2 linked regions of the Homo sapiens genome follow. The protein of the gene in region 1 purifies or fractionates together with the protein of each later gene. This does not show direct contact. Each region holds a gene or a part of one and is shown in the gene's direction. Other genes may lie near its edges.

The links.
Region 2: the proteins of ASTN2 (region 1) and ALDH3B1 purify together in Homo sapiens (affinity purification with mass spectrometry; one large-scale study listed by BioGRID and IntAct). This does not show direct contact.

Annotation. Positions count from the first base shown.
Region 1 is NC_000009.12:117,212,259-117,216,073, reverse strand, and holds part of ASTN2 (astrotactin-2 isoform g precursor), read left to right. Parts: intron 1-1,331; coding exon 1,332-1,716; intron 1,717-3,815. UniProt on the Homo sapiens protein: Mediates recycling of the neuronal cell adhesion molecule ASTN1 to the anterior pole of the cell membrane in migrating neurons. Promotes ASTN1 internalization and intracellular transport of endocytosed ASTN1.
Region 2 is NC_000011.10:68,020,218-68,024,032, forward strand, and holds part of ALDH3B1 (aldehyde dehydrogenase family 3 member B1), read left to right. Parts: intron 1-1,267; coding exon 1,268-1,654; intron 1,655-2,377; coding exon 2,378-2,544; intron 2,545-3,815. UniProt on the Homo sapiens protein: Oxidizes medium and long chain saturated and unsaturated fatty aldehydes generated in the plasma membrane into non-toxic fatty acids. May have a protective role against the cytotoxicity induced by lipid peroxidation.

The DNA of each region.
Region 1 (3,815 bases):
TTCAATGAGATCATAGCCAAGGAGAAGCCATCAACCACACAGGTGGATTGAAAGAATATAGGCTCTAGAGTTAAAAAGCAAAAACAAACAAAATAAACACACAAAAAGTAAGGCTCAGATATTACTCTGCCACTTGCTCTCTGAGTTTCTGGGTCTCTTGATTTTTTGAAGCCTCTCTCTACCCTGTATACAACAAGGGTGATTCCTCCTGACTCTAGGGATTACACAGCAGGCATTCAGCAAAGTGTCTTCCAATCTCCCAAACATGAAGCAGAGTATAAAGTGAAGAAAAGCAAGAGAAGTGATGAGGGCCTACCCATCAGAGGAGAGGTTTCTGGCACAGAACAATTGAGGGGAGGCCTGGAGAATGCAAACCCTCAACTTCAAGCTCATGACAGGTGTTATGGGGATTACAGACGTGTTTTGAAAATACCTCTGCCCTGAAGGATCTTACAGACCAGAGTATTTCATGAATCATGTAAGATATGTGCATTAACACATTAGCTTATTTCAAATTAATGTAGGATAATGCAGACTCAAATATTTAGGAGCTGAGTGTATCAAAGAAAAAAATGTATATATATACACATTATATATATATATATCAGTTGACCTTGAAATTCTTATTAAAGGAGCCCTAGAAAGGTACATTTTCATTCACTCATTTACCAAATATTTGTTAAGGACCTACTTTGTCCCAGTTCCCTTATAGAAATTCAGAAATTTAAAGACTGGTGTTTCTGAAAAATGAAGAAAATACAGACTATGCAGACATTATGTTTGATTTAATAATGCTATCTTATATTTGCAGCAAGATGTAAGACAGCCTACTACTGTCTCATGATCTTTCAGTTAACTCATTCTAGAGATGAGGAAGCAAGGCTGGGGGAGCGTAGGCAACTGTCCTTGGGATGCTCAGCTGGTGGGAGATGGAGTCTAGATTCAGACATTCACCTGTGTGAAGCCGCAGCACTGACCCTTCCTGCCACTGAGCTATCTGTATTGCTCTGACATGACCGTTATCCATCTGATTTGCTTCCTATGGCAACCTTGTGAAGAAGGAAGAGCAGGGATTCCTACTCAACCTTTATAACTATGGAAAGCAAGGCTCAGAGAAGTGAAGAAGTTTGCCTAGGGTCACATAGTTTGTTGGTGAAAAAGCCAGGTTTGAAACAATGTCTCTCTAGCTTAAAAACCACGGCTGGTGGTTCCTGAGGCTCTATGAGCCAAACCCAGGGATCCTGGCAGAGTGTAGTGGACAGGAAAATCCCCTGCAGCCCTCGATTCCAAAGAACAGTGGCCCATTTGTGTGTCCTTCCTTCCTGCTCCAGGGTGGCCTCATCGCGCTGCTGCTGCTGCTGCTGGTGTTCACCGTGGCGCTGTACGCCCAGCGACGTTGGCAGAAGCGTCGCCGCATCCCCCAGAAGAGCGCAAGCACAGAAGCCACTCATGAGATCCACTACATCCCATCTGTGCTGCTGGGTCCCCAGGCGCGGGAGAGCTTCCGTTCATCCCGGCTGCAAACCCACAATTCCGTCATTGGCGTGCCCATCCGGGAGACTCCCATCCTGGATGACTATGACTGTGAGGAGGATGAGGAGCCACCTAGGCGGGCCAACCATGTCTCCCGCGAGGACGAGTTTGGCAGCCAGGTGACCCACACTCTGGACAGTCTGGGACATCCAGGGGAAGAGAAGGTGGACTTTGAGAAGAAAGGTGAGTCCTCCATGTCACAGCCCATTTTCCAGGGGGCATTTTGAAAAGATGGGAAGAGGTGCAGAAGCTGGGCAGTTGGGGACTACAGGCAGTGTTTTCTGGGATAAGCCACTTTGGATTTATGGCTTTAGATTTCTGTTGGGTTATCAAGTTTGTCTTCTCTGATTCTTCAGTAGTGATGAGAGAATAAAAGAGTGTCAGTACTCCCAGAATTGGAGTTGTGAGGAGCCTCAGAGGCTATGCAGTCCAACATCTTTCCAGTGTCTCTTGATTACCTCCTTTGACAGCTTTCTCACTACTCGGAAAAGAGGCCATCTCATTTCCACACAATTACTGACTATTAGAGGGTTTCTTCTTATACCAACTTGAAATCTGTGTTCACGGTCCCCCATGTCCAAAAGGAAAGTGATCTGATATTCTTTTTCCAAGGCAGCAGCTCTTGGGAAATTTGACAACACAAATAAAAGAGACTGTACATTTTAAACAACCTAAACACCCCAGTTTCTCTAAATAGTCTCATATAAAGCATTTTTCAGACATTTCACCTTCCTGGTCACTGCCGTCTAGACAGAAATTCTAATTTTTCACATCCTGGGCCATAACACCCAAACTGACACTCTTCTTCCTCAAGGCAGGAATGATCCAGGGCTGAGAAAAATGGGATTTTTGTCTCCTTCTTGCCAACTGTTATACTTCTATTGATGCAGCTTGAGATCCCATTTGTTTGTTACAGTTATTGCTGGCTCATATTAGACTTCTTTTATGTTTTTTTATATTGACAAATAATGTTCGTACATATTTATGGAGTACATAGTGATATTTTGATCCATATGATATATGGTGATCAGATCAGGGTAATTAGTATATCAATCATCTTAAACATTGATCATTTCTTTGCATTGGGAATGTTCAATAAGCTCCTAGTTATTTGAAACTATGTATTACATTAATAAGTAATCTTTAAGTGGTATAGGACACTAGAAATTATTACACCTATCTAGCTGTAATTTTATTTCCTTTAATAAATTTCTCCCTATTCCTGTCTCCCTCCTACCTTTCCCAGCTTCTAATATCCTCTGTATCCTACTAGCAGCCTCGAGCATTCTTTTACTTCTATGAGGTCAATTATTTTCAGCTTCCACATGTGAATAAGAATATGTGACATTTAACTTTCCATTCCTGTCTTATTTTGCTTAATATAATGTTCTTCAGTTCCATCAAGGTCGCCATAAATGAAAGGATTTCATTCTTATTTATGGCTGAATGTATTCCATTGTGTATACATACCACCTTTTCTTTATCTAGTCATCTGTTGTTGGACACCTAGGTTGATTCCATATCTTGACTATTGTGGATAATCCTGCAGTAAGCATGCAGGTGCAGATGTATCTTCAATAAGCTGATTTCCTTTAATTTGGATAAATACCAAGTCATGGGATTGCTAGATATATGGTAGTTCTTTTTGTAGTTTTTAGAGGACCTTCCAAACTGTTCTATATAGTGACTGTACTAGTTTACATTCGCATGACAGTGTATGAGTTTTCTTTTCTCCGCATTCTCACCAGCATTTGTTATTTTTGACTTTTTTATAATAGCCATTCTAACTGAGATGAGATTATACCTCATTGCAGTTTTTGATTTGCATTTACCTGATAATTACTAATAAGGAGCATGTTTTCGTATATTTGTTGGTCACTTGTATGTCTTTTGAGAAATTTCTATTCAGAACAATTTGTCCACTTTTTTATTAGATTGGAGGGTTTTTTTGTTTTTTGTTTTTTTGTTTTTTGTTTTTGCTGTTGGAATGTTTGAGTCTCTTGTATATTCTGGATATTAATTCCCTATTGGATAAATATTTTATGAATATTTTCTCCCATTCTGTAGGTTGTGTTTTCATTCTGTTGTTTCCTTTGCTGTGCAGGAGCTTTTTAGTTTGACATATAATCTTGTCTACTTTTGCTTTTTTTTTCTTTGCCTGTGCTTTTAAGGTCTTACTTACAAAATCTTTTTTCAGACCAATGTCTTGAAGTGTTTCCCCTGTTTTCTTCTAATATGTTTATCATTTCGGGTCTTACATTTAGGTCTTTGATTCATTGTAA
Region 2 (3,815 bases), on another chromosome or scaffold:
CAGAGGTCACTTTTTTTTTCTTTTTTTTTGAGACAGAGTCTTGCTCTGTCACCCAGGCAGTGGCACAATCTTGGCACAATCTTGGCTCACTGCAACCTCTGCGCCTCCTGGGTTCAAGTGATGCTCATGCCTCAGCTTCCCAAGTAGCTGGGGTGACAGGCATGTACCACCACGCCCGGCTAATTTTTTGTATTTTTAGTAAAGACAGGGTCTCACTCTGTTGCTCAGGCTGGTCTCGAACTCTTGGCCTCAACCAGTCCTCCTGCCTTGGTCTCCTAAAGTGCAGGGATCACAGGCATGAGCCACCACACCCGGCTTCGAGTTTTTGAGCTAGGGAGGGGCAGAGGGAGCGAGAGGAAGACAGTGGTGCTGGCAGGCGAGTCTGCGCCTTACAGGTCGAGGCAGTCGTGGGGAAGGGCCTGGCAGGATTGACCTGGCCGCCTCCCAGCAAAGGCAAAGGAGCCCTGGAAGGAACCACAGAGCCCAGGAAGCACTGTGCCAGGATGGGGCAGGGGTGAGAGTAGAGAAGGCACAGTGGCTCCTGCCGGCTTTAATCCTTGACCACAAGGGGGAGAAATGCCAGGGCCATCCCCACAGACGCAGCAGCGTGGTCCCCGAGTCAGGTCTGGAGAGGAGGCCTTGAGGCCCAGACAGGGCTAGGGCAGAGAAGGCTGTGTGCATGCGGAGACTGCTGGGCCCCTGGAGGCCAGCACAGAGGAGAGGTGAGGCCAAGCCAGGCAGGACATGGGGACGCCTGCATCAGCCTGGGACAGTCCACCTCAAGGGTCAGAAAAAAAGGGCTGGGCAGGTGGCAGAACTTCCAGGTTTAGGTTTAGAGAAGAGAGACCTGAATGCCGTAGACAGAGCTGGACTCCATCCTTGGGTGATAAGGGATCCCCGAAGTTTCCAAAGGAGATGGGTGGGGAGGGGTTCCATGCAGCATTTTGCAAAGAGTCCCCTGCAGGGTCAGCCAGGGTCACAAGCAGAGGCGGGAGGAGCCAAGGGGTTTGGCTCAGCAGGGGGACCCTGGGGGCCGATAGCAGCCGTGCACCATTCCCTCCTGAGACTCTGTGCTTAGGGGCTGGTCCTGATGAAGGATGAGCAGGGCCCTGGGCTGCAGGGTGGCAGTGAGGAACAAGGAAAGGCCAGGCGAGGGCTGCTGCCCGCTGACTCCACCACCTCTCCAGGGAGGAGCGGGGCCGTGGGCTGGGCCATCCCGCCTGGTCCAGGTCACTGAACGGCCACTCTGGTTTCCTTCCATGCCCAGGGAGCCCTCGTGTGGGCAAGATTGTTATGACTGCTGCCGCCAAGCACCTGACACCTGTCACCCTGGAGCTGGGGGGCAAGAACCCTTGCTACGTGGACGACAACTGCGACCCCCAGACCGTGGCCAACCGCGTGGCCTGGTTCCGCTACTTCAACGCCGGCCAGACCTGCGTGGCCCCCGACTACGTCCTATGCAGCCCTGAGATGCAGGAGAGGCTGCTGCCTGCCCTGCAGAGCACCATCACCCGTTTCTATGGCGACGACCCCCAGAGCTCCCCAAACCTGGGCCGCATCATCAACCAGAAACAGTTCCAGCGGCTGCGGGCATTGCTGGGCTGCGGCCGTGTGGCCATTGGGGGCCAGAGCGATGAGAGCGATCGCTACATCGGTGAGTCCTGCTGCCCCTACCACAGCCCACCTGGGCCAAGACCCCTCCTCACTGGAGGGCCCAAGGCTGGGCCACAACTCTGGACCCGCGCCTGAAACCTGGCCCCACTGCCAGAGCCCGGCCTTGAGCCACAGCTCCAGTGCCATGATTCCGTCTCTGTGCTTCTAAGTCTGTGGCCCTATGAGGCCAAACTCTGGTCCCTCACCTTGGATTCGCTGAGCTCAGATCCCAGGGCTCCAGGGCTCAGCGTGCTAAGATGAACTCCCATCCCACCACTGGCTATCCTGAAAGGCTGTAACCTCAGATTCTCCGAGCCCACAATCCCCAGGTTCTAAACTCCGAGAGTCCCGTCCTGAGCCCCCAGTCTCCTGGGCCGTACGGCTCAGCAGCTCATGGGACACTGCGGCGCCAACATTCTGGGACGCTGTTGCCTCATGAACTCCAAGGGTTCTAAGATCCCATCACCCCTGACTGTGAGACCAAGGTCGGGGGATTCTCTGTGTCCCACAGGCCCTGAGCAGGCTGGGGAAGCTCTAGAGTCCCTTCTGGGGGGCTGTGGGGAGACTTTCTTCCCTAAACACTCCAAAGCCTGAAGCCTTGGGAAGTCAGACCTTGGGATCCTGGCCTAGAGCCCTGGCCTGTGGCCCTGTCCCCACCTCTACCCCCACCCTGGGGGCGGTCCTGACTGTGGCCCCAGGGCTGAGCTGTCTCTGGTGCCTGCAGCCCCCACGGTGCTGGTGGATGTGCAGGAGATGGAGCCTGTGATGCAGGAGGAGATCTTCGGGCCCATCCTGCCCATCGTGAACGTGCAGAGCTTGGACGAGGCCATCGAGTTCATCAACCGGCGGGAGAAGCCCCTGGCCCTGTACGCCTTCTCCAACAGCAGCCAGGTGGGGGTGCGGCCGGGCTGGGCAGGGTCAGGAGCCCGCAGTGGGCAGCACAAGTGGTGGCAGCAGGGGGGGCACCAAAATCCAGTGGCTTCAGGACTTTGGGATGGTGGACCTCTTGGCTCTGTCTCTGCCCACTCTCCTGGAAGCAGCTGAGCCTCACCCACCCCAACCCTGTCCCCAGTCTGGGCCCCACTCTCCTAGGCCTTCAGTGGGCAGCTTCCTGGGGTATGGGCCTTCTCTAGGGTCCAGTGTTTCCTCTAGGTCAGCCCCTGCCTTTGTCCTTCTTACACATCGGGGCCTGGTGGCCACATGACCCCTCAAGCCTGGCTCTGAAGGCACAGGCAACGTGTCGGGGATGACCCAAAGGTGCAGGTCCAAGAATGAGCCCTGATCCCCTACCCCTGCTTAAGCTGCAGAGGCAGCCTGGGAGGCCCAAGGCCAGAGTCCTCAGATTAAAAAACACCAAGAGGTACCAGCAGTCCCTACCCACCCCGCCCCCTTCCCCGGCCCTCAGCCAGTTCCTCGATTCCCTCCACTTGAACTTTTTTTTTTTTTTTTTTGAGACAGAGTCTCACTCTGTCACCCAGGCTGGAGTGCAGTAGCACAGTCTTGGCTCACTGCAACCTCTGCCTCCCGGGTTCAAGCGATTCTCCTGCCTCAACCTCCTGTGTAGCTGGGATTACAGGCGTGTGCCACTATGCCCGGCTAATTCTTTGTATTTTTAGTAGAGATGGGGTTTTGCCACATTGGTCAGGCTAGTCTTGAACTGCTGACCTCAGGTGATCCACCTGCCTCGGCCTCCCAAAGTGCTGGGATTACAGGGATGAGCCACCGTGCCCGGCCACTTGAACTTTTTTTAAATAAACTTTGTATTGGGAAATACTTTTAGATTTACAGAAAAGTTGCCAAAATGGTACAGAGAGTTCCCATGTACCCCACACCTAATTTCCCCCATTTAATGGTGCTTAGATGGGTCAAAACTAAAAAAGTGATGGCAGGGCTGGGCGCGGTGGCTCACACCTGTAATCTCAGCACTTTGGGAGGCCAAGGTGGGAGGATTGCTTGAGCTCATGAGTTTGAGACCAGCGCTGGCAATATAGCAAAACCCCGTCTCTATGAAACATTTTTTTAAGATTAGTTGCGCATAGTGGCGCACACCTGTAATGCCAGCTGCTCGGGAGGCTGAGGTGGAAGGATCTCCTGACCCATAAAAAAAAAAAAAAAGTGACAGCAGTGCTTTACTATTAACTACACTCTAGACTTTATTTGGA